Homo sapiens: one gene and its partners. The protein of the gene in region 5 interacts with the protein of the main gene of each other region in a biochemical or structural test. Each region holds a gene or a part of one and is shown on either strand. Other genes may lie near its edges.

Evidence for each region.
Region 1: the proteins of LMNA (region 5) and MLIP form a complex in vitro, tested with the Homo sapiens proteins (one study listed by BioGRID).
Region 2: the proteins of LMNA (region 5) and URB2 form a complex in vitro, tested with the Homo sapiens proteins (one study listed by BioGRID).
Region 3: the proteins of LMNA (region 5) and ENG interact on a protein array, tested with the Homo sapiens proteins (one large-scale study listed by IntAct).
Region 4: the proteins of LMNA (region 5) and TMPO interact in far-western blotting, tested with the Homo sapiens proteins (one study listed by BioGRID).
Region 6: the proteins of LMNA (region 5) and ANXA1 interact in a test that uses a peptide from one of them, tested with the Homo sapiens proteins (one large-scale study listed by BioGRID).
Region 7: the proteins of LMNA (region 5) and LEMD2 interact in far-western blotting, tested with the Homo sapiens proteins (one study listed by IntAct).

The regions. Positions count from the first base shown.
Region 1 is NC_000006.12:54,121,443-54,124,942, reverse strand, and holds part of MLIP (muscular LMNA-interacting protein), read right to left. Parts: intron 3,497-3,500; coding exon 3,341-3,496; intron 471-3,340; coding exon 78-470; intron 1-77. UniProt on the Homo sapiens protein: Required for myoblast differentiation into myotubes, possibly acting as a transcriptional regulator of the myogenic program. Required for cardiac adaptation to stress through integrated regulation of the AKT/mTOR pathways and FOXO1.
Region 2 is NC_000001.11:229,657,247-229,660,700, reverse strand, and holds the end of URB2 (unhealthy ribosome biogenesis protein 2 homolog), read right to left. Parts: intron 1,602-3,454; coding exon 1,404-1,601; 3' UTR 501-1,403; downstream 1-500. UniProt on the Homo sapiens protein: Essential for hematopietic stem cell development through the regulation of p53/TP53 pathway.
Region 3 is NC_000009.12:127,844,659-127,848,158, forward strand, and holds part of ENG (endoglin isoform 1 precursor), read right to left. Parts: intron 2,478-3,500; exon of another isoform or gene 2,285-2,477; intron 1-2,284. UniProt on the Homo sapiens protein: Vascular endothelium glycoprotein that plays an important role in the regulation of angiogenesis. Required for normal structure and integrity of adult vasculature. Regulates the migration of vascular endothelial cells.
Region 4 is NC_000012.12:98,543,090-98,546,589, reverse strand, and holds part of TMPO (thymopoietin), read right to left. Parts: intron 2,361-3,500; coding exon 2,241-2,360; intron 2,149-2,240; coding exon 2,053-2,148; intron 1,640-2,052; coding exon 1,529-1,639; intron 232-1,528; coding exon 143-231; intron 1-142. UniProt on the Homo sapiens protein: May help direct the assembly of the nuclear lamina and thereby help maintain the structural organization of the nuclear envelope. Possible receptor for attachment of lamin filaments to the inner nuclear membrane.
Region 5 is NC_000001.11:156,128,211-156,131,710, reverse strand, and holds part of LMNA (lamin), read right to left. Parts: intron 1,885-3,500; exon of another isoform or gene 1,862-1,884; coding exon of another isoform or gene 1,803-1,861; intron 1,095-1,802; coding exon 938-1,094; intron 1-937.
Region 6 is NC_000009.12:73,165,365-73,168,864, forward strand, and holds part of ANXA1 (annexin A1), read left to right. Parts: intron 1-732; coding exon 733-828; intron 829-2,132; coding exon 2,133-2,191; intron 2,192-3,500. UniProt on the Homo sapiens protein: Plays important roles in the innate immune response as effector of glucocorticoid-mediated responses and regulator of the inflammatory process. Has anti-inflammatory activity.
Region 7 is NC_000006.12:33,779,131-33,782,630, forward strand, and holds part of LEMD2 (LEM domain-containing protein 2), read right to left. Parts: intron 2,024-3,500; coding exon 1,947-2,023; intron 1,050-1,946; coding exon 970-1,049; intron 1-969. UniProt on the Homo sapiens protein: Nuclear lamina-associated inner nuclear membrane protein that is involved in nuclear structure organization, maintenance of nuclear envelope (NE) integrity and NE reformation after mitosis.

The DNA of each region.
Region 1 (3,500 bases), on a different chromosome or scaffold from region 5:
CCTTTGCAGACCGCCCAAGACAAAGGGTGCATAAACGCTTTTTTTTTCCTTATGGACAGCAGGAACACAAAACCTACCTGCCCATGCTTTTGCTGAGGGGCCATCCCATGAAGCATTTCAGGATGTGATGAGGTCTTGAGATCAGTCCCCTGTGTTTTGGGACGCACTACATCAGAGACCAGACTGGACGAGATAGCTAGAGACTTGGGCCGGACAGCTGCGGTGCCAATCCCCCCTGGGGGGCCTTGTTCAACTTTTCTGCTTGCAGCCTCATCTTCCCCTTCGGAGTCCACAATAAGGACATATTCAGCTTTGAAGAGGTCACTTTGCTGCATCCCTTGAAGTTTGTTTGCTTCGAATTCCCTTTCTTGTAAAATCGTTCCACTGACCTCTGAAGGACAAGTCAATTTCGCTTGGTCTCTCTCTTGTTGGCTCCCAGCATTCAAGGTCAAGTAGTCATTGGATTTAGACTGTAATAGATGTAGAGAGATAAAAGCATTGACATTAGTTTAATAAATGCTTCTTTTTTGGCATGTACACTGAAAAGCTTAACCTCCTTATATTTTCAAAAATATATTAAATTAGGTTGACATAAGAAAGAGATTGGGTTGAAGTTAGCAGTTTATTTTTACTAGCCCACTAGCCCACCTGTTTTTCCTGGTCTAAGCCCAAACAATTTTGGGATAGTAATCAACATCAACAGGCAAACCTAACTGTTTTCAAGTAAGTCATGATACGACATTTTAAAGAGAGAGAGGGAGAGAGCAATGTTTTCCGTGAAGACATTTGTGAAACAAATGGGGATTGGGCAAGGGTTTAGTTAATGGTGAAGCAAACTGTATATCCTTTAAAAGCCAAGGGAGGAAGGAAATCCCCATTGAAAGTTTCTAAAATAATACAAAATCTCTCTAAAAATCTGAAAGGAAAAATAAAATTGGGCAAAATGCATAGTCAGACAAAACAATCTAAGTTAATTAGGGAGAACTCATAAATAGAACACCAAAAAAGATGCAGATATTTTTAGTACAAAGCATCTTTCACTGTTTTATTTTGGATTTGTAATTCTCAGTCTTTTCCCATCCAATTTTCTGTGAATACATAGTTTACAAGACCAGGATCAAGATAGCTTTATCAAGCTACCAAACTTCTTTTTCTAAAACTATGACAGCCATGTATACTGAGATTGTGTTTAAAAGACCCAATGTTAATTTTCTTATTTTTATTATTACACTATGGTTACTATTATTCTTTTCTCTGCAGCTTTTCTGTAAGGCTAAAATTATTTCAAAATAGAGAGTTATGCCACTAAATGAAAATATGCTAATAATTTCAACTCTGGTGGTCAATTTAATGTGTACTGTGTGTGCATGTATTGTATGTATGAAGACAGAAGTCAAATCACTGATTAAATATAACTAAAAAGTTGATTTTATACACCCACATTATTCAGCTGATAATGAGGATATAGTCAGGATAAAACACAAATTGCCTCTGATTAAAATTTCTCTGCCCATCTTTCCCTATTTACTCTGATATTGTTTTCATTGTATTTATCACTATATGGATTTTATTACATACTTTTTTCATTTTTTTCATTGCCTGCCTTCCCGATAACAAGTAAGCTATATGAATTGTCTTTATTCAGTTGGAATCCAATCATCAAGAGAATAACATATGTTCAGTAAACAGTTGCTAAGAATATAAATGAAGCCGGGCGCGGTGGCTCAAGCCTGTAATCCCAGCACTTTGGGAGGCCGAGGAGGGCGGATCACGAGGTCAGGAGATCGAGATCATCCTGGCTAACAAGGTTAAACCCCGTCTCTACTAAAAATACAAAAAAAATTAGCCGGGCGCGGTGGCAGAGGCGCCTATAGTCCCAGCTATTCGGGAGGCTGAGGCAGGAGAATGGAGTGAACCCGGGAGGCGGAGCTTGCAGTGAGCCGAGATCGCGCCACTGCACTCTAGCCTGGGCGACAGAGCGAGACTCCGTCTCAAAAAAAAAAAAAAGAATATAAATGAATGAGGAATTACACTATTTTAATGTTGAACTGTCTAAGAGATAGGGTGAAAAATCTTTTAAAGATGTGGTTGTATATATATCATTGCAATCAGCAGATAAATATTATCATCTTAGGAAGCTCTGGAGGCTTGCAACCAAGGTTGGTTTATGTAGCTACAGTCTCACACCACTCATAAGGCCTAATTACAAAGGATCTCATTAATATTATGTAAATGAGTGCTGTAGGAAAGAAACTATCTAGAAGTGCCATATATAGTATTCATGGCCCCATTAGTCTTTGAAAGAAGATAGCAGCATTGAAAACCCCAGGATCATGGAAATATTACTATTTTCTAGATAAGATGTTTTCTTGTAGACAAGGTGAATCTGATTATTTTACTCCTTTCTAATTGTGTCAAGAATAACACAAAGTTGCCCCAATCTCATTTTATTTATAAGTAAGCAATGTTAAAACACATTTTAAAGAGAAAAACATTTTTACTCAAAATTTTGTTATTCTAACACAAGTTATTTTCAAGATTTTTAAATTTGTGTAATTTCACTTCCCATCTTGGTCTCATTTTAGATAGGTACAATCAAGATATGAACACAGTATTATATCACCTAATATTGTAAGGTTAACATTTTCCATGGAATTATCTAATTACCATCAGTATAACTTTGCCAAAGTGAGGTACTATTATATTCTTAACTTTTCTGATTGTTAGATATTAGGCATTTTTTATTTTTCCCTAATTATTTACCTACATAACATTTTTCTTCTTTTGTAATATTTCCTTGGGATACTTTTCAAAGAGTTAGATTATTGAAAGGTTATAAACAGTTTTATAACTATAGATAAAGTATTTCCACCAAAATTGTATAAATTTACAAAACCAGCAGCAAAGTGTAAGCATGCCAATATTTCCACAACTTTCCCAACATCAGGTATTACATTTTTTAATGTTGCTAATTCATTACCTGTAAATAATAATATCTCACTGTTTTGTCTTATATTTTCTTTTGAGATAAATTTAAACATTTTTAAATTTTGTTTTTATTTTCTTAAGAAACATTTGAGAGAATGTGCCAGGAGGCAGAATTTGTCATGTCAATAGCAAACAATAGGATGTCAAACTGAAAAAAATTGAAGATAATGCATTAGAGAGAACATGCAATTTGATAACATTTATGCTTCTGTTGCATTATTATATTTTTAGTCAAACTTAGAGTCACAGTCACCTTAATTTAAGCACAGGAAATATACACAAATTTCCAAGTCATCATTATCAAAATTTAATATAATTGTTTGAAATTAAAAAAGAATAAAAATAATCCTACCCTATTTACAGTTTCTGGACTCTTATCACTTGATTCTTCTGGAATTTTAACAAGGAATTTAGAGGTGTCAGCCAACTGAGTATGGGTTGGTAGTCTTCTGACAGTGGGGACAAATGTGAAGATCAGAGGTTTGGCTTCAGAACCACCAGCAGAGACCTAT
Region 2 (3,454 bases), about 74 Mb from region 5:
TAAATATCCCAATTGAGAAATGTGCTATTACAGAAGAAAGATAATTATATAAACATAATTTACATAAGAAATAAAAATGGTAAATGTGAAAAATGTATAATCTCTTAGTAATTAAAGAAATTCAAAACAGAATAACATCTCTCTCCTATCAAGGAAGCATAAAGAAACAAAAATCAATAATATTAAAGTTGACTCACTAGTAGGAAAATAAATTAGTAATATTCTAGGGGGCAATTTGGCAATATTTATATAAATCCTTTAAAAATGATGTGGTTTTCTGACAAATAATACAACTCATGAGAATTCATCTTCTGAAAATAATTCAGCTGCAAGCACCATCTATAAAAGGGAATTTGGACAGATACCTATGTCTAACCATGGTGTACTTATTAAATAAAACAACAATATCTACTCAATGGACTACTATGCAGCCAAAAAAAATATATGTCGAATGTTTTCACTGACCCAGAGTTACTTAAAATATTACACAGGAAAAAAGGTAACTTTAAAAAAATGCATTTATGATCCAATTTAGCTACTATATATATTTATATGCACATCTATATACATACACATAGTAAAGGGACTACAACAAGATACTCCAAGGTGACAACCGAGGTTATCTGGGTAACTGAGACTATGAATGAGTTTTTTAAATTATCCTTTTATTTTTCTTTTCTGAGGTTGCTATAATAAAAATATATTGCTTAGGTAATAAGAAAAAACAATTAGGATTATTTCTTAAACTGCATAGGAAAAAAAAATTCCTAAATGAACTTCACAGAGCTAACACAGGAGGAGCAGGCAGGAGCCCTGGCACCTGTGCTAAACGTCACCGACCTGCCTGAGGTGCCCACTATCGCCACCCAGAGCAGACACCTCAGGCCACAGACTCTAACTTTCCCTGACTTCTTCAGAAAGCATACTTAGAGGGAAGGCAGAAAATGTGACATTTCAAGAATACTTCCCATGTTACTTGAAGAATTTGAAAGGCAAGTATATTTAAACAGGGCTGAATTATACGCCCATGTACCCAAAGTAAAAAGCCAAGTTTTATGTAGTTTCCAGTGCAGACGAGGGAACACCAAACCACTGAGCCAAGACGAGAACCAAACACAGAAAGGTCCCAAGAGTCAGCAATTTTTCTATTGAATTAATCTCATCCCAGGGTCAATTTTCAGGATTCTATTGCAATACTTACTGCATAAAACTATGTATTAAAAAATAGTAAGAAAAACACGATGTAAAATACATCAAAATATACTACATAAACCCCAAAGGATTTTCTATGTATACCAATACTACGAATTAGAACATCTTAAGTCTTTCATTCTCCAGCTCTTTCAGACCATGCAGCCAAAGCCTCTGGACAGTGTCACTGGCGGCACTTCTGTCCCATAGCCTTAGGCCGTATATCTTTTCTCTCCTTCATGTTTGGCCTTGTGGTACTTGAGATAGTCATTATAGAGCTCCTTAAAGATGTCTCTCATTCCCGGCTGCAGCGAGGCCCGCAGGAACTGGACGTCAGGCTCGATGCAGAGGTCCAGGATGAGGTAAATGCCCTCCTGCAGCAGACTTTTCACAGCTGGATATAAGGTCACCTGAGGAAAAAGGCAAACCTCTGTGAGAACAATTGGGGGCAGAGATCAAGCCGCACCACCTGCCAACAATGCCTTGGGAAGCACTAACAAGTAATTTCAAACTGACCTCCAAATTGAGAAAAAAATCGACATTCACTTTTAAAATATAATTTTATTACTAAGTCAAACCTTTAAATACTCATATTTTTAAAGTTTGTATTTTGGGGAAATAGAAGCTAACTCAAGCAAACACAAACCTGGAATAAAACTCCATGAAAGCAAAAGGCTGGCTTTGCTGTTCAGTAAATGATGCTTACATGTTTACCAGGGGCATTTTAAAAAACTGGAGTCTTTAAATTTAAAAACCTTATAAGAAGATAAGCTGCCTGCCCATTGTGTCAAATTCTTCTACACCGTCAATCACCTTGGAAGCTATGCCAACCCTGTGGGACAATGACAACTACGTTCACCATAACACTATGACCCCCATCTCACCCCAGAGCAAGGCAGCAGGCAGGCTCTGAAACTACCAAAACAGACCACTGATAAGCCTACACTAGTAATTAGATCACATCATATCACCCAAGAGCAGAAGTGATTTCATGATTGCCATTTAATAGATTCCTTTTTTATTTATGTCAAGAACAGCACAATATGCACTTAATTCCTAACAGCCCTGGAATGGTTGAACTGGTCCTCATCCCTAAAGATGCACTTCTCCCCTGAAGTTCAGGGTTACCTAAAATCTGGAGCACAGGAGTGTGGGTGGCAGCCAGCTCCAACCTGGCTGTATCTGATGCTCCACCCAAACTTCCAGAGAAGAGACTCAGACTAATATCAAACCAACCTAAAAGGCTGGGGGAACAGGTTCTCTTCACACTTACCACATCCATTCAGGTTTCAACTAAATGTGGGCTGAACAGAGTTTGAAACCCTAGTAACTGAAACTAAAAAGCAGTAGTAATGAACAGTTCTGGGAACAGATGGTGGTGATGGCTGCACAATATAAGAATGTATATACTACTACTGAAGTGCACACATAAAACAGTTAAGCTGGTAAAATTCACCTTATACTAGATGTATTTTGCCATTACTTTTAAGAAGTAGAAAAAAACCAAAGCAGTGGTAGAGCATCAGCAGACAGGCCTGGAATTTGGCTGATCATTTATTGCTACCCTGATAACCTGAAAGGGTTAATGTGTCTCTGCAAACACAGTTTCTAATGAGGACATATTTTATTAACCAGAAGAACTGATTCACGAAGGCAACCACTGGGAAGTACATTCCTAAAGAGGCAATTTGTTTCTGTCTCTCAGACGATGCTACTCTTCAAAGTTATGATCCTTTTCATGTAATAGTTCAGAAATTTCTGACAAGTGATCATCTTAAATTTTACCATTTTATAGATGATAGCAACACTCAAGGACCGAAGGTAGAATGGCGTGTCTGTGAATTTTACAGCAAGGTAATTGGGAGGGAAAGAAAAAAACAAAACAAAACGAAAAACAGACAAAAACACAAAGTCCTTGATCATACTGGCAGGGTGAGGGCTTTGTAAGTGGACTACTTATTCATACTTGTTCATTCATTTAATTATCACTTACTAAATAAATAATTCCACTTCCAAAGGCAAAAAATGAGGTTCAGTGACCTCCCCAAAGTCACACAGCTAATAACTGGCAGCGCTAAGACTTGAACCTAGGCAGTCTGAGCCCAGAGCCCATGCTCTGAACTACTTACACAGTTTCTCAGTAGTGAAAATGCAGCTAGACAGCCTCTTGCAAAGAGCTCTGGGGGTAGTAAGAAGGCCAGTAGGTTTTAGACAACACAACCACTTTAAATCTTTAGGTTTCAGATAACTTATTTATAAAACA
Region 3 (3,500 bases), on a different chromosome or scaffold from region 5:
ACTCAAGAGATCCTCCCACCTCGGCCTCCCAAAGTGTTGGGATTACAGGCATGAGCCACCACACCCGGCTGATTTTCATTTGATGTATCTGGCAACCCTAACTTCATGGCAGGGCCTAGGTGTGAACCCAAGTCTCCCTCCAGGTAAGGCAGGAGCTGAGCTCAGGAGACAAAGCTTCCCCTCTCTTGCCTCAAGGTGGTGGGAGGAATGGTCTGAAGGGGTTGAGAGTTCCCTAGCCCCAAGGGACAGGGCGAGCCGAGAAGGCGGCCCAGGTTTGGAGGCTGCCAGAGCAGACCGCAGAGCCCGGAAACACAGGTCCTGAGGGAAAGGAATGGAATTTCACCCTGACCCAGCAGGGTCGGAAAAGGAAATGAGGCTCCTACACCTCGTCCTGAGGAATGTGCCGGGGGAAGGGGGCTCCGGAGGAGGGAAGGAGGACAGAAGGGGAGACTGTTTGGAAGTTTGTGTCTCCATCTTGTCGCGCTCACTTCCTGTTTTCTTGGAGATCAAAGATGGGCGCGGAGAGACTGGCTTCATGTCCAGCCAAGGCCGGCTCAGAGGAGGGGGCAGGGAGGCTTCTTCTGAACCCTGGGCTGTCTGGAGCCTCACCGGCCTCCTTCCTCACCTTCCCACAGCACGTTGGGCTCTGGGCCCCAGAAGTCAGCAAAGGAAGTGAGATGGTCACCCCTTGCCATGGCAACGCCATTCCCAGCTCTGTCTTGGGAAGGAGAAGATCTGGATGAGGACTTCTGGCTGCCACGGGGGCCCAGGCCTTATATGTCGTCTCTCTGACCCTATCCTACATGTCCCAGGGACTCTGGAGTGCCTGGACATAGTGGCATTTTGGTTAAAAGCAAGCTCCCTGGAGCCAGGCTGACCTGGTTTGCCTCTCAGGCCCAATGCTTACCAGCTATGTGGCTCTGGTGAATGATTTCACCTCTTGGGGCTTCAATACCTGGTCTATAAAATGACAACAGAGCCCACATGATCCACAGAGGTGGCTGGGAGGACTCCATGAGACTGGGCACATGGCAATTCTTTCTTAAATTTCTATTTGTTTATTTTTCAGACAAGGTTGCCCTCTGTCTCCTGGGCTGGAGTGCAGTGGTGTGATAACAGCTCACTGCAGCCTTGAGCTGCTGGGTTCAAGCGATCCTCCTGCCTCAGCCTCCCAAGTAGTTGGGACTACAGTTGTGCGCCACCACGCCTGGCTAATTTTTTAAATTTTCAGTAGAGACTGGGTCTCACTATGTTGCTCAGGCTGGTCTCAAACTCCTGAGCTCAAGCAGTCCTCCCGCCTCAGCCTCCCAAAGTGCTAGGATTACAGGTGTGAGCCACCATGAGTGAGCCAGCATGCCTGGCCGGCAGCTTTCTCTTAATTACAATTATTTGACTGACTTCAGTCACTGTAGAATTGACTGTTCTAAGGGGTGGGGTGAAGTGGCGGGATGGGGTGGCCTCCAGGTGACGGTCCTCTGGGATGGAGAGGTCACTGGGATCTCCCTCACCCCAACAAAATCAAGGGCTGGTGCCATCTCCTGTCTCCAGTCCCTCTGACCCACCAGCCCCCATGTTCTCCCCACCCTCTCCTTTCCTCATCGGTGAGCGCAGGTTCCTTGGCTGTTACCTAGCTTAAGCCCCTCCTACTCAGATGGGGAGACTGAGGTCTGGAGGGACGGGACAGGTCAAAGTCTCACAGCACATGGTTGACCAGGCCGGGCCTCGGACCCGCGTCTCCCAACATGACCCAGTGTCTGGCCTGCAGATTATCGCAGCGCCTCCCTCCTTCCCTTTGGGACTTTCCCTGCCCCCTCCCCAGACTTCCAGGAACCCCAGTTCCTCCCGGATTGCTGGGGCCGCCTGGGGCCGCCTCCTCCATGCCGTCAGCCAGCGGGAGAGGCCACAAGCCTGGCCATTATGTAATGATCAGATAACAGGCCTGGCGGGGAGATCAGATAAGAGGTCCATTTATTTTGGGGCCTTTTCGAATCCTGGCCGCCCCCACCCCGCAGACGAGAATGGGGAGACAGGAGGGAGTGTGACGCCTGGGCCTGTCTCCCGGAGCCTGAGGCGGGCCCAGACCAAGTTGAAAACAATCCCCTGGCACCAAGGGAAACGCCAGGGCCTCCCGGGACTGGGTCAGAGGAGGAGCCGCTGGGGGCCTGGGTGACTGGAACCCCAAGTGAGAGACCCAGAAGCCACCTCCCACCACTGTCCCCTCTCCACCCTCGCCACCCATGTGCACACAGCACCTCCCAGATTTCCAGAGGGCTACCTTCAGCACCTTGGAGGATGATCAAGAAAAACAGCTCTGGAGCCAGATGGCCTGGATCAAATCCCAGCTCTGCCTCTTAAAATGCTGGTCACCTTGAGCAGAAGCCTAACCTCTCTGAGCCTCAGTTTCCCCATTTGCAGACCACCAATAATCACTGCAGATGCTCCCATCATGCTTACTGGGAGCCTAGGCAGCTTTACACGAGTGAACTCATTTGATCCTCACAGCAGCCTTGTGAGGTGGGCGGCGCTATTACACCCATGCACACTCCAGGAAACTGAAGACCAGGGCGGTTAAAGAAACTGAAGACCAGCTGCCCGAGGTGACCCAGCTACTAAGTGTCACGGCCTGGATTTAAACCCAGACAGTCTGGCTCCAGCAAGCAGCAGGCATTCACAGGCTGAGTGTGTCAGTTTGATGGGGTAACCCCTGTTGAGTGCCTGGTACTAAGTAGGTGCCCCAGACACAGAAGCTGTGAATATTATTTCATCATACTAGGACAGATACTTTTCTTCCCGCTGCCACCCCCCCTTTTCTTTTCTGAGATAGAGTCTCACTCTGTCACCCAGGCCAGAGTACAGTGTCTCGATCTCGGCTCACTATAACCTCCCCGTCCCAGGTTCAAGCGATTCTCATGCCTCAGCCTCCTGAGTAACTACAAGTGGACCACCACACTCAGCTAATTTTTGTATTTTTTGTAGAGACGGGGTTTCGCCGTATTGCGCAGGCTGGTCTCAAACTCCTGGGCTCAAGCAATCCACCCATCTCAGCCTCCCAAGGAAGATACGTTTCAACAAGGGTCCTTCTTGCTGCAATGCCTGCCCCGTCTTGTTCAGTACCCCCGGGCCACTCTTTACCCTTTTCAGGCCCAATTACAGCCTCACAGGTTTCCCAGCATCCAGCCCAGCCACTGCCCCCAGCCACCAGGAGGTCTCAGCATGCCTTGGCCCCGGGCTCCCCCCTGGTTCTACGATGCCTGCAGGGTCAAGTTCCTGCACTGCAGCCTACAGTAGAGGTGAAAAGCACAGCGATTTGACAGATGCCAAAGGTTCAGGTCCTGATTCTTCCACCTGCCAGCTGCCTTTCCATCCTCAGTGTTCTCATCTGTAACATGGGGATGAGGGTCATCATAACAGCTTCCCATGGAGTCGGCAAGCAGGCCAGTAAATTACACCTGCACAGCGCTAGGCCGGCTCCTGCTAAGTGGGGGTTGCTCAGGAACTGG
Region 4 (3,500 bases), on a different chromosome or scaffold from region 5:
GACTACAGGCATGTACCATTGTACCTGGCTCCAAAAAAACAGCTTAATTCTGAGCAGAAGTACAGTAACTTTGTGATGAAGAATTAAAAATAAAGATTCCCTACTAGAATACACTAGTACTTGTTTAAATGTATCTGAATACCTAATTCCTGTTGGTGTAGATGCTTCATAGGGGAACATTTCCTTAAGAATATCCCTTTCTACTCTTCTTTCCTCTGTTTTTTCTCCCACCTAATAAGAAACAGACAAACAAACAACCACAAGTTAAAATTTAGTGTAAACATGCAATAATTAAAACATAAATAGTAAGTTTTAGAGAACAAAATGCCTTTAAATCTATCATAGATTTTACAGCTGCCATTTCTAAATTATTATTTAGGTATCCACATGCTTCCAAGGCTCTCTTCAAATTTCTTGAAGATACCTTATATATGTGGTTATTGGAGTGAAAAACTGCCACACATTTAAATAACTGGGGGGAAAAAATTCAGTAATCTAACATGGCAATGCTAATTCCCTCATTGATTTTGTTTTTTACTATTAAGAGTATATTGTTGGGCCGGGTACGGTGGCTCACGCCTGTAATCCCAGCACTTTGGGAGGCTGAGGCGGGTGGATCACCTGAGGTCAGGAGTTCGAGACCAGCCTGACCAACATAGTGAAATCCCATCTCTACTAAAAATACAAAAATTAGCTGGGCGTGGTGGCGGGCACCCGTAATCCCAGCTACTCAGGAGGCTGAGGCAGGAGAATCGCTTGAACCCAGGAGGCGGAGGTTGCAGTGAGCTGAGACCGTGCCACTGCACTCCAGCCTGGGCAACAGAGCAAGACTCCGTTTCAAAAAAAAAAAAGTATACTGTTTCTTCATTTATTAAGAATTCTGTAGTAAAAGATAAAATACAGAAGATACTTAACATGAACCTTTAGCAAACTTTACTATATGTTTTAAAATTATAGTCAATGCAATATGCCCAAATTAAAAAAAATATAATGTTTAGCTTGTTTTACTGTTTACCTTTATGTCCAGAACAAAATAATAAATGTTTCGGCTCCTTTTGTAAAGATTCATTCAAATTAAAATGCACCATGCAGTTAGTACTTTCAAGCTTAATTACACAGGAGTTAACCCATTCCAGCACCACATGAAGTTATGTTAAAGTCTCTTATTTGACCCGTCAACAAAAGAAAGTGTAGCCTCCCTCATAGCCCAGCAGCACTTTCAAACTTGCATCCATGACAAACAGAACATATTATAAGCAGAACAGAAATGACCACTCCCTTGAAAACTGGAACTTAAGAGGGATACAGTGGCAAGAGGATAGTATTAGCATGTCAAACTATATTAGTTAATTTCTGTTTTCACTAATAAAAGTGTCCTTAAAATAATTTATGCATATTTACACACACCACCCAATAAAGAAAGCTCTGCTCCCTCCCACTCCAAAAAAAAAAAAAAAAAACAAACAAATATTTATATTTCCTCTTTGAAAGATCAATGATAGCATCGATCTAAATTGTATTCATTTACTTCAGCTCTTGTCAATGGTTTCTTTGGTGCTCTTCTGGGTATGTCTGAGAATTCAGTGATTGGCAGAATAGGAGATGCATGCTTGAAATTTCCAGTCACCCTATTGACAACCTGCCAAGATTCAAATTATTCAGACTCAGAATTATCCAAACATAACACAGACACTTAAAAAGAAAAGAAAGATATTTTATCTCTGTAATATTAGAAATTTTCCCTTAGTAAAGATTTAAGCAACACAGCCTACAAACACAACTTAGTGCCTCACATATGAAGCCTCATTCTTCAAATATTTTAACAAAAAATATCCTTATACTTTCTTGTACAATGAATTAGATTTCTTTACATAAATTGGATATTATAGGAAAATTCTAAAATTCAGAACTATATGGGGAAAATCAGTTTAAAATTGTTAAAAAAAAAAAACATGTAAATTTGAGATTTGCCAAAATTCACCACCTCCCCATTTCCAATTAAAGGGTAATTTACAAAGAATACCACTTGTATAGTTTATGAAACATATTTACTAAGGATTCGTTGCTTGAAGCCATTATAGTTTCAGCTATGGGAGTACTCTCTGAAATTACTGGACCATCTATACGAAAATGTTCTGAAGTTTCCACCTGTTAGTTTGAAAACAAAACAAAAACAATAAATATAAAATAATACTAAAACCCTACAAATCTGAAAACCCAAGGAATAAGCCTTGCATCACCCTTTTCCTTGGAGTTCTTCTTGACCCTCTTGTAGATTCCCTAGTTAATGCCTGCAGAGGTCCGCCTTTTGAAGATCCACTTGTCCATTCAGTCTCAGTTATTCCAGCTTGAGAATAGCTCTATTCAAGCATCAACACATTAAAAAGTCATATTCTAACATCAAATACTTTAATAACGGCCATACTGGCACACTGAGAAGCCATGAAATAGAAGTCTCCAAATGCCAGCATTTACAAACAAGGCTATGTCCTCAAAATATTCCTAAATGTATTAATTGAACTGATATTTAGGCATCAGGAAACACTTAAAAAGTGCTAAAATACACTAAAGAATCCACCTATAGTAGCTCACAAATTATAAACATTATGGGAAAAAAAGCACATCAACTATCACCAGTTCCCTTTTTGACTCACTGTGTGCTATTTGGCTCTAGTATTGGAGCTACATCTCTGTCTAAACAAAAAGCAGACTGATCATGACTTAGAAAAAAGTCATCTATTATAAGTCAGTTTCCTTTTAAAACAAAAATACAAACTTTTGTAATTGTTAGCATAAACATTATTATTTTCATATGGTTATAATCATTTTAGTAGAATCAGTTTAAATTATAATCCCACATATAGCTTATTTGAACTAAAAAATTCTCAGGTGTCAAATTTTTCTTGGAAACAGATACAAAATTAGGTAGCCACAAAAACCCTGTGGTCACTCTTTAATGAATATGCAAGCCTAACGTCACTTTCAAATCTCAATGCTATCCATGTCACTACAGAAAGACAGAAAACAGCTGCCTCAGATTAATTCTCAGTCTCAGATTAATTTCTATGTTCCACTGATCATTTTTAAAGAATCCAGCATTTCTTACATACTGGTTTAAAACCCATTAGATCAGTTCTTCTTAAATTGTAATGTGCCTATCAATCACTTGAAGCTTCTGTTAAATGCAGATTCTGATTCTGTAGCTGTAGGGCCCGAAATTCCGCATTCCAAGTAGTTTAAGGTTTTCAGTTTTGAAGTCGCTATTACCAGATGATTCTTTTAAATTCTTTTAACTACAGAACATCCATCAATGATCAGTATTATAGTAGAGTGTCCTTCTGTTGTCACTTTTGCTTTCACGCCAATATTTAACCTAGATTACTGATGGTTTTAGGTCCAAGTCAATGTCTATTAAAGACAGATTTTTTTTTTAAACTTTAATCCTGTGACAGGAGTGGTCATCCAATAAATATGCCTAAATGGCTGGATGTAATACTACC
Region 5 (3,500 bases):
ATAGGAGGCCCTTGTATACCGGAGGGCCAAACTGGGAGGGATCTAGGGTCAGGTACAGTTCATTGCAAAGTTAAGTAGAAATGGCTTGTGGATTATTTTATTTTATGTATTTATTTATGTAGAGACAGGGTTTCCCTCTGTCACCCAGGCTGAAGTGCAGTGGTGCAATCACAGCTCACTGTATCCTCGACCTCTCAGGTTCAAGCCATCCTCCTGCCTCAGCCTCCCAAGTAGCTGGGACTATAGGTGCACACCACCATGCCCAGCTAATTTCTTTAAATTTTTATTTTCTAGAGATGGGGTCTGTGTTGCCCAGGCTGGTCTCAAACTCCTGGACTCAAGCAATCCTGCCTCCTTGGCCTCCCAAAATGCTGGGATTACAGGCATGAGCCACCACACATGGCCTGGATTATTTTTATTATTATTATTATTATTTTTTTGAGACGGAGTCTCACTCTGTTGCCCAGGCTGGAGTGCAGTGGCATGATCTCAGCTCACTGCAAGCTCTGCCTCGCAGGCTCACGCCATTCTCCTGCCTCAGCCTCCCGAGTAGTTGGGACTACAGGCGCCCGCCACCATGCCAGGCTAATTTTTTGTATTTTTAGTAGAGACGGGGTTTCACCATGTTAGTCAGGATGATCTCGATCTCCTGACCTCGTGATCGGCCCACCTCGGCCTCCTAAAGTGCTGGGATTACAGGCGTGAACCACCATGCCCGGCCTCCTGGATTATTTTAAATTCACTGTGGTAGATCCCATTGGCAGCCAAATTAGGATAAGATGTGACCTCAGTGGGTAAAATGACTCTAGGACAGGTGAATGGCTCTGAAATCAGGTGACAGGTCAGACCAGGCACCACATGGGGGAGGGCCTAGGTAGAAGAGTGAGTGTACATGTGTTAGGTGGGGCCATGGGTGGGCCCTGCAGGGTGGCCTCACCTTGGCCACCTGGCCCCGCAGATCATGCAGCTCGCCCTCCAGCGTGCGCTTCTCACTGAGAGCAGTGCTCAGTGCGGCCTCCTTGGAGTTCAGCAGAGCCTCCAGGTCCTTCAGCCGAGCCTGAGCAGCTATCAGGTCACCCTCCTTCTTGGTATTGCTAAAGAAGAGAGGGGAGAGTAGATTTAAGAGAAGGAGTCTGTGTGCCTAGACAGTGCCAGGCTCCCAGGAGGTCAGCCATGGGGGCTGGCGCTGCTATGCCTGCAATTACCAGGAGAGGGCATCCTTGCATTAGGTTGGTTTGCATCTGCTTGCCTCTGGGGCTGGGCTCCCACCTCCCCAAGGTCCTTGAAAACCCCCTTCCTGCTTCTCCACCCTTCCCATGACTCAGGGCTCAGGAACGTGCCTGGGGCCAAGGGCAGAGCTCTACCCCGTGATATGAATGCTTTTCCCTCTCTCTCCTCCCATTCTTTCCCAAAGAGACAGGGGTACCTTTGTCTCCTGCCCCTTCCCACACAGGGCCTTACTTAGCCTTCTCCCTGGACTCTACTCACTTCCCTTTGGCCAAGCTTCCCTCCCTCTGAGGAGCCTGACAACTAAGCTCATGGCCCACATGTCCCTAGCACTTCTCGATCTGAGCCCCAAAGGTACTGGTCACCTCTCCTAGTCCCTTTTACACATGTGGGACTGTGGGGAAGGAAAGTCTGGTTAGAGCTCAGAGGGACCTCAGACAAGGATGACCAGGCACAATATTGACCCTTTCCTTTCTCAGGACCCAGTCTGGGTGCCCTGATCTGCACTGAACAGAGGGGTCCCTGCCTCCCTCCCTCCTGCCTCATCCGTGCCCTGGGAGAAGGCTGAGCCCTACCCATCTACCATAGCCTCAGCATCTGGTTCCAGATGTGGATCCCAGGCCTCCAGGTCCATCTGGGCCCCAGCTTTAAGCCTCCCTGCTCCTCAAAGTGGGTAAAGCTTTAGCTATAACCAGTCGAACAGCGCTGCCTCTGCCACCTCCCTCACCTTTTCTGGGCCCCTGATTATTTTTGCTAGTGGACTGGAGAAATAGAAAGGTCCTATTTTCTTAAAAACCTCCAGAGAACCCAAGAACTTTCTAGATGTTACAATTGCTTCACAAATATAGGGTGAGAGAAAGCAGCAGACCCAGGGAGCGGAGGGAAAGATCCAGAGGACCTGGTTCCAGCTGCCATCTGTAACTCATCAGTGCTTAAGCATGAGCCCACCACAGCAGATGGAAAAAAGGAAAACCAAGCGTGGGCAGAAGGAAAAATCTATCCTGGAAAGGAGAAAAGCAGCCCTGCCAACATTTTTCTTCTACCACAAAAGTCCTAAACTCCAAGAGGCCCAGCAATTCACTGTGAAGAGGGATAGGGAAGGCTAGATTTGCAGAAGCTCTGGAGGACGAGACCCAGGCAGTGTTCTGCTTAGGAGAGTCCAAAAAAGGAGTCACCCCCACCTCCCCCCACCAGGCAGGGAGGAGGATAGAGTGACACTCAGAGGGGCAGGGGAAGGACATGAGAAGCCAGAGGAAGCTCCCCCAGCCTGCACACTTGCTCAGTCCAGGCCTCTGGCCACACCTCAGAACAAGTTGTTTAATGTAAGTGTCTGTCTCCTGCAAAAAAGAGCCCCTTCCAGAACCGGAGAATGTATTCCCTCCTCTGTCTCAGTCAGAAAAGCTAAAAATAAAGTCAAAACCCAGCTCAGGTTTTGGCTGCCATCCGGCCTAGCCCCTGGCTGGGAGCACAGCCCCAACTTTCCATGACTTCAGAACTTTTCCGAAGCTGAAGCAGCTGCAGGGGGAGGAGGGAAAATGAAGAAAAACCGCTGGTAAAGTGAAGCAACTGGGGCAACTTAGATTCCGAGCTCCTTGGGCTGACCCCCAGGCTGGCTGGGGCTTCCCAGAAGAGGCCTCTCTACCCTGAAGGCTAATGGCTGCTGCTGGCTGTACTAGGAGGCTCTCAGAATTTAGAGAACTAGAAGGAGCTTAGAGTTGATTCAGCTCAACCCTCTCCCTTTTATAGATGAGGAAACTGAGGTGCAAAGGAGGAAGGTGAATGGCCCAGTGTCAATTACCGAAAGCCAGCAGCAGCATTCCAGTCAATTCTAGCTGCTGATCTAGGGTTCCTCCTCCTCCACCTCACTGCTTTCCTAAGCCACAAGTTCCAGAGAGAATGGAGAAGCCAGGAGGAGGAAGAGGGCAGACACTATGGCACAAAGCGTTTCCCTGACCAGCCAGCCTGAGCTGAAAGAAGCTGGAAGGCAATGGGATGATTTCAGAAGGTGTCTCAAGGGCACCTTTTCCCTAGTCCTGTCTCCCCAGCCTCCTTAGGTGCCAGGAGGAATTCCTGGAGTTCCCCCTGGTAACAGCCTTTCCTTGCCAGTGCCTGGCAGACACTGACTGAGGAAAACATAGATGCATGATCCCTGTGCTCTGCGAGCTTATGGGCTGATGAGCACAGAAGTTTTTTCTTCAGTCTAACCTCTTCACCTTCTGCTGCTTGCAAAAGCGGTGGTGGCAGTGATAATAATAATATAATAGCAAACACTT
Region 6 (3,500 bases), on a different chromosome or scaffold from region 5:
GTCCAATTTTGTACAGCCGCTACTTTATCATATTTAATACATTTTGTGACTTGGGCATGTGGAACATAATTTTGTTATTTTCACTGCTTTTACTCCCCTAAAAGATTTGGAATATGTGTGGGAAAAGACATGCATAACAGAACAAATGAAATTAGAATGAAGAAAAACAAAAAAAAAAAAACAAAAAACCCTCAGAGCTAAATGAAGAAAGAAATATGTAGGTGCTTTGGAAAAACAACAACAAGACAAAACTCAGAAAAAGTCCTGGCCTTTGAGTGCAAGATTTAGCTCTGGGCCTCTTGGAAGTGAAGGCGATGGAAAAGTTATGACAATTACCAAAGTTCACCATCTTATAATAGTATACTGATTTCTACTGTTAAATGTAAGAGAAATTTAGTGCACAGGTCTTTATATAAGGGAAGATCCATTTGCTGTGGCTCTTAGAACTGCTGTAGGAAGTGCTATAGTTGTCAATCACATGCCGTTTCTAATAACTGTCAACATTTGCAAACATTTCGCCAAAATATATAGGAATACCAAAATGGCCAGGTAAGTTACATTCCTAGGAGAGGATGAAGTATTCACGTTATGATTAATTGGGTATATTGCTTTAAAAGGTGTAGCCAAAGTTGTTATTCTAAAAAATTCTTTGAGTCAGTTGCCTTGATTTTGCTAAAGCTTTCTAAAGAAAAGGATGTTTTGCATGTATCTTAGTTTGAATTTAATATTCAGTGTTTCAGAAATACACCAAGTACAGTAAGCATGACATGAACAAAGTTCTGGACCTGGAGTTGAAAGGTGACATTGAGAAATGCCTCACAGCTATCGGTATGTAGTCCAGCAGTTGAAAGAGTTTTCTAACTAGAAATTGTATTTTCAAAGCTATCCTATACTTAACAAGAACAACAGCAACAAAACCAATAAAAGAAAACAAAAAACAATCAGAAGTAGTGCATCTGTTTCAATTGAAGCAACGTAAAAGATTGGCAAAGTACTATAACCTTAATAACAATAGATATTATTCCCCTTTTCAAAAATAGAGAGAGATAGACTATACTTATTGAGCACCTACTTATATCAAACAATGTACCAGGCTGGGCACACCACAGAGGCAATTCAGAATGGTCACTGAGAGCATGGGATCTGGAATAAATGTAACATCTGGATAAATGTAACTTCAAGTCCTGGTCTACTGCTTGTTAATTGTACAATCTTGGGCAGGTCCAGGAGAGTCTGATTCAGTGGGTCCGAGTTGGCCTCTAAAAATCGGTACTTTTTAAAGATCTCCCAGGTTATTCAGACAACCATCAGGGTTGGGGAACCTATGTTCTCAAGCAGTGTTTCTCATTCATGACTATGCACTTGAATCCCCTGGAAAGCTTGTTAAAATGCAGATTCTGATTCCCCAGGTCTGGGGTGGAGCTTAGATTCTGCTTTTCTAACAAGCTCCCCATTGATGCCAATGCTGTTGGTCCATAGATCTCGACAAGATGAAGAACACTATGAACTGGAATGTGCTAGTATTATTTGGGTTCTGTTTTATATTTAAGCCCATCCTATCCCAGAGTTTTTTCTTCATTTATTCATTTATTTTTACTTATTTGTTTGTGCAACTCTTACTTTAGACACAGAGGTACATGTGCACGTTTGTTCCATGGGTGTTCTGCACTCAGGCAGTGAGCATAGTACCCAATAAGTAGTTTTTTGACCAATGCCCCTTCTCTCCCTGCCCTCTCTAGTAGTCTGCAGTGTCTGTTGTTCATAGGGTGTTCTTTTTAAATGTTCTTATAGTAACATAAATAAAGTATTTACATAGGCTTGAACACCTAGTGGCTTCTCCACTCCCAAGGAGAATATATGTTGGATAGCGCAAACTACTGAAGTTGCTCTTGAGATGTATTTAAGGTAATAAAAAAATTGATCGTCAGGGAAAAGAATATTCAAAACCACCATCTAGAGAGTCACAAATACCTTCTCAGAAGTTAACTGCCCTATATTGGGAGATGAGAGGTGAAGAATGATGATGAGGGATAGAACACTGTTGGCAAAATTCTATATTTCCTGTTTCTTTCATATGGATATTTCATTTTTTTCATGGTAAATACATCAACTAAAATTTTCTTCTCTAACAGTGAAGTGCGCCACAAGCAAACCAGCTTTCTTTGCAGAGAAGCTTCATCAAGCCATGAAAGTATGTACCATTCTACTTATATGTCCTGCTTAGAGGAAGAATTATTTGTAGAAAGAACAGAAAACCTCATGTTGTTTGAAAATCTCACATTTAATATCTTCCCATTAATGAGAATCATTGTTCTATTTGATGAAAGAGGTAATACACTACCTTCTCAGAATAAACTTCTGTTAGATTCGGTGCTTTTTTTTACAGATGAGATTGTAAAGTGAGCCTGTAAGTGATTTACGGCTCACTTGTGATTTGCTTAAAACATGTGTCACCACGGGAAGGGTGATGTACTTTCTTTTTTAACGTGTAATTTTAGTGGCCTACTTCCTCTAAGGTTGTGAGTTTTATAATCTCCCACTTTATGAGTCTGATTTGTTGTTTTTATTATTCTGTCTTTTATGCCACAGATTAATAGTTGAAACTTTTGAAATGTCATTCTATGATTAAGGATGTAGAATGATGTATTTGAGATCAACTATGTCACTTTAACTTTACTGTCTGACATGCATGGTATTATACAAGGTACCTCTTCTATTCTGACATTTTGAGCCCACAAATGAATAGTTATGAAGTTATCTTCCTTTTTTCTTTGCAGCTCCAAAATAAGGAGGTTTTCAGAGAGAGAGAGAAAGAAAGATCTAACTATTTGAATAATATGAAGGAATATTTTGAATATATATGAATAATTTGAATAATATGAAATGATAGACATGCTAGGTACTGCTCTGTAGTGGTTAGCATAGTTGCTGCCCCCTTTCTGCCATAGTCTAGTGTGATATTTCGTTGGGTAATGATGAATACCTGGTGCCATGGAAGAGAAAAGTGGGACATATACTCCAGACTTTGGAAATCCAGGTAGCATTGCTGTCAGCTAAATTAACACCTGAAGTTTAAATAGAAATGAGCCAGATGAGGGCAAGAGTGGAAGAGATGGGGATAAAGCAAGGGTGGTCCAAGAGGAAGAAGTAACCCACACACAGGCTTGAAGGCAAAAGGTAACATAACCTTCTCAAGACAGTAAGTATAGAGTGATGGTGCACACTGGAAGAGATGGTAGAATTAGGCAGGATATTGTAAGCCTTGAAAAAGAATTAGGCAGGATATCGGAAGCCCTGATTAGATTCTATCCTAAGAGCAACAGAAGATCACTGACAGTGTTTTAAATAGATAGACTAGTTTATTAGATTTGCAGTTTAGAAGTTCCCTTTTTTTGTAATTATTGGACAGTGTAGAGACCGGATGGTGAGAGATGAGTTAGGAAGTTGTGACAGCTCTCTATACCTACCGCTAATGTAGAGGATTATTTATTTTCATTTCA
Region 7 (3,500 bases), on a different chromosome or scaffold from region 5:
CAACATGAAAAGGTGAGTGTCATCATTCTTCTGTGTTAGCAGCTTCAGTGAGCGCTGCTGCTGAGGATAAAATCCGTATTCTCCTCCGCCTTTTCTAACACAGGAAAATTGCTCAGCTACTCAGGGCAGCTTTTTTTTTTTTTTAAGCCAACAAATTTTAATCGTGCCATGCATCCAGTTATCCAGCTTGAGGTGGAGCTGCCCGAGGGGCTTCTGCTGGATGCAGTGCTGATGGAATTAGTAATTTGGGTGGATTAGAGAGGAAAAGAACAAAACTCTAGAGACGTTTTAATATCAAGAGCTATAACCTGAACAGAGACCCCCACAAACACCGAGAGTGGGAAGTGGGGAAGTGATGCTGCTCTGCCAGCAGGGGACAGGTCTCTCAAGGCTGCCTGGCTGTTGGCTGACACGCCCCTCCCCCTGGGCTGAGCCGCCAGATACAGCCTTTCAGCCTCATGAAAGGGTTTGCTACCTTTTCTAACAGTGCTCACCAGTGATAAAAATGAGGCAGAAACTGCCTGGTCAGAATAAAATCCAGTATTTCCTTATGCGATTTCCATAGTAAGTAAAACCAACATACAGAAAGAATAATTTCATCTACAAATAAAAACTAGCTCCCGAGGAGGGGAAGTGCAGAAAAATGCCTTCCCCAACAAACCATGTGGTGTTGTTGATGAATGAGAAAGGCACAGACTGAGTTACCTGAGACAGGATTTAGCTGGAACACCAGGCTAACATCCTAACACCTGGATTTTGTGTCTCATCTTGAAGCTGCTCCTTACACTGCATTCCAAATGCTTCTTGCTTTTGTTGCCCCACTTCCATCCTAACCCACATGATTCTGCTGGGAGACCCAGCCTCCAGCTTCAGACCTGAGACAGCTCTGTTGGAGCACGGGTGTTAGCTGACGAGCGAGGACAGTGGTTGCAGGCACCCATGCTGCGTCGCCACCCTGCCCACACTCACCAGATGCCCACGTCCTTGTTACTGCTCAGTATCCAGGTCAGTGCGGCTTCAAACTTGGCGGAGGAGCTGCTGGTCACATTCTGTGGGAGGGCGCGGGAGAAGGTTAGTTCGGCGTCTGGGCGGAGCAGCTGGAACATTATTCTGCTGCTGGATTAAGGAAGCCCTCTCCCGTGTCCTCCACAGCCCCAAAACCCTGTTCTGCTAAAAGCACAGCAAAGTGGCAGGAAGGAAATCGGGGGTTGATGAAAGCCAAGGAAGAGGCTATAACCAGAGGAGGTGATGCGGAAGCACAAGCAGGAAAACAGTGCGGGTCTGAGGCGGCCAAAAGAATATGATTCTCTCGAGGATGGAAGCATCAGGCCAGAGAGCTGGCAGCTCATCTTAGGGTAAAGCGAATAACAGCGTTGTGGCTGGGGGTGGGTGAGCCCAGTGGCCGGTGCAAGTGGTCTGGCCTCAGGCAAGTCCCTGACCCTCTCCAGGCCTCAGTTTCTTCATCTGTGAAATGCAAATGGAACCAGATGACCCCTAAGTTACTGGACAGGCAGGCGACCTGGAATACCAGCTCCATAGTTCTATAATCTACCATCCTGAGGCCACACAGGAAATCAGACGGCCCCTGGGCAGTCTGAATGGTAATCATACGGGGGAGAAGGGACAGCATGTTTCTCCTGAAAGCCGAAGGCAAGACGAGCAAAGTGAACCAAGGGAGAAGCAGGTAACAGGCACACCTACAGTGCAGCAGTCAGGAGTGAGCCGCCCCACTGCACATGGCGGCCTGGCTCTGGGGCAGTCACTACCATGGCTGCCTTAACTGAAGGTAGTCTAGCACAAAAAGCCATAAACCAAACCTTAACTTAAGGTAGCCTAGTACAAAAGCCACAAAGCAAACAAAAAACAAAAACCCCAACAGGGCTTGAAAGACCAATAGGAAAGCACCAGGCCCTCCCAGGAATGTATAAGCACTGAAGCCTACTTACGGCTATATATTCTTGGGCTTCCATAACAGGAATGCATTTGCTTTTTAGATTCTCTGGATTTCCACACTCAAAATTACCTAGGAGAAAAAAAACCACACATGCTCAAACACAAAGGAAAAATCACTCTGAAACAGACTAAAAAATGCAGCAAGAATCAAGCCATCAGCTCTAATAAGGAGCATGTTGCCCAGCGGCTCCTGGCTTCTGTGGGGCATCTTCACTCTGCAGCAAGATCAAAAGCCACTTAGCTTGGATCGATTCCAGATCATTAAAACCTGACCTGCAAAGCAGTGTGGCATTTTGCATTAAATGACTAAAAAGCTGCCCAATAGCAAGGTCTCTTTGCAATTGATCCCTAAAAGAATCAGACAGATAGCTTCGGAAGGTACCGGAATGGCACTATAAATAAACACAGCCTGAGAAAAAAGAAAGGCAGGGAGGCCATGGGCACCACGGGGATTCTGACTCATGACACAGGCAGGCGACCTGGAATGCCAGGTCTATTGTCTTGAGGGGCCCCTTGGAGGAAGAGGATGTCTGTGTGCTGGGCAGTGGGGCCTCAGCACAGCACGCCAAGGGGCAGCTCCCCCGAGTGGCTTTGGAGGCCTGCTCCCATAGGATGGAGCTGGCAGCCTCCCACTTAGTCCTGCCCAACCTCCCCGGTCCAGCCCAGGGGCCATCTCCCCTGGGAAGCCCTCAGCCCCTGGGGGCCTTTTGTTTGATGAAATGGCCCCAGATTTGGTGACCTGCCATAGCCCTTGGTCCTCGCTCCTGTGCTGTGGTTTGCCTGACTCCCCGAGAGCAGGGAGGGTGCAGGGCCACGCACGCATACACTATTTAACACGTGTGCGTGGCCTGACTGCCCTGACCCAGCACAGCCTGGGGGACTTCGGGTGGCCAGTGAGTGTGTTTCTGCATGCTGGGGAAGGGAGCAGCTGAAGGTCATATTTTAAAACTTTGAAACTGAACTGAAGCCTGTCGCCTTCCCCTAACACAGCCAGATCCTCCTACTTCAAAGTTGATCTTGACCCCAGGGGTCCCCTGAGACACAGGTGGCTTCTAGCATCCTCCTTTTCCCACTAGGACTCTTCCTGCCCTTGCCAGGCCTGCCTGGACCACGTAGATGGCCTCTCGATTCGGTTCCTCCTCTCCCTTTCCCAATCCAGTTGTTTTGTCAATAACACTTGAAAATGATTCTGCTTAACTGTGCTACTCAAGCTGCTGCCGCATTCACCTTCCTGGCACCTGGCTCTCAGCATGATACTCCCTTGCTCAAAGCCTCTCTGGCCCTCACTGCCTGCCAGATCAAGCTCTGGTGGCCTGGCATCCAAGGCCATCTATGGTAGGGCCCAACCAACACTTCCAAACTTCATTCTCTCATCTTCCCCTTCCTCCATGAAGGTGCTGCTTCCCACTCGAGATGTAATTTCCTGCCGCTTTGCCTTGTCCTTCCCCACATACATGTAACCAGTCTTACCTGGGCTTCAGGGCCTGGCACAGATGCTACCTCCTGTGACGCTCTCCTGACTGCTCCAGCTAAAAGGCATTGTGCCT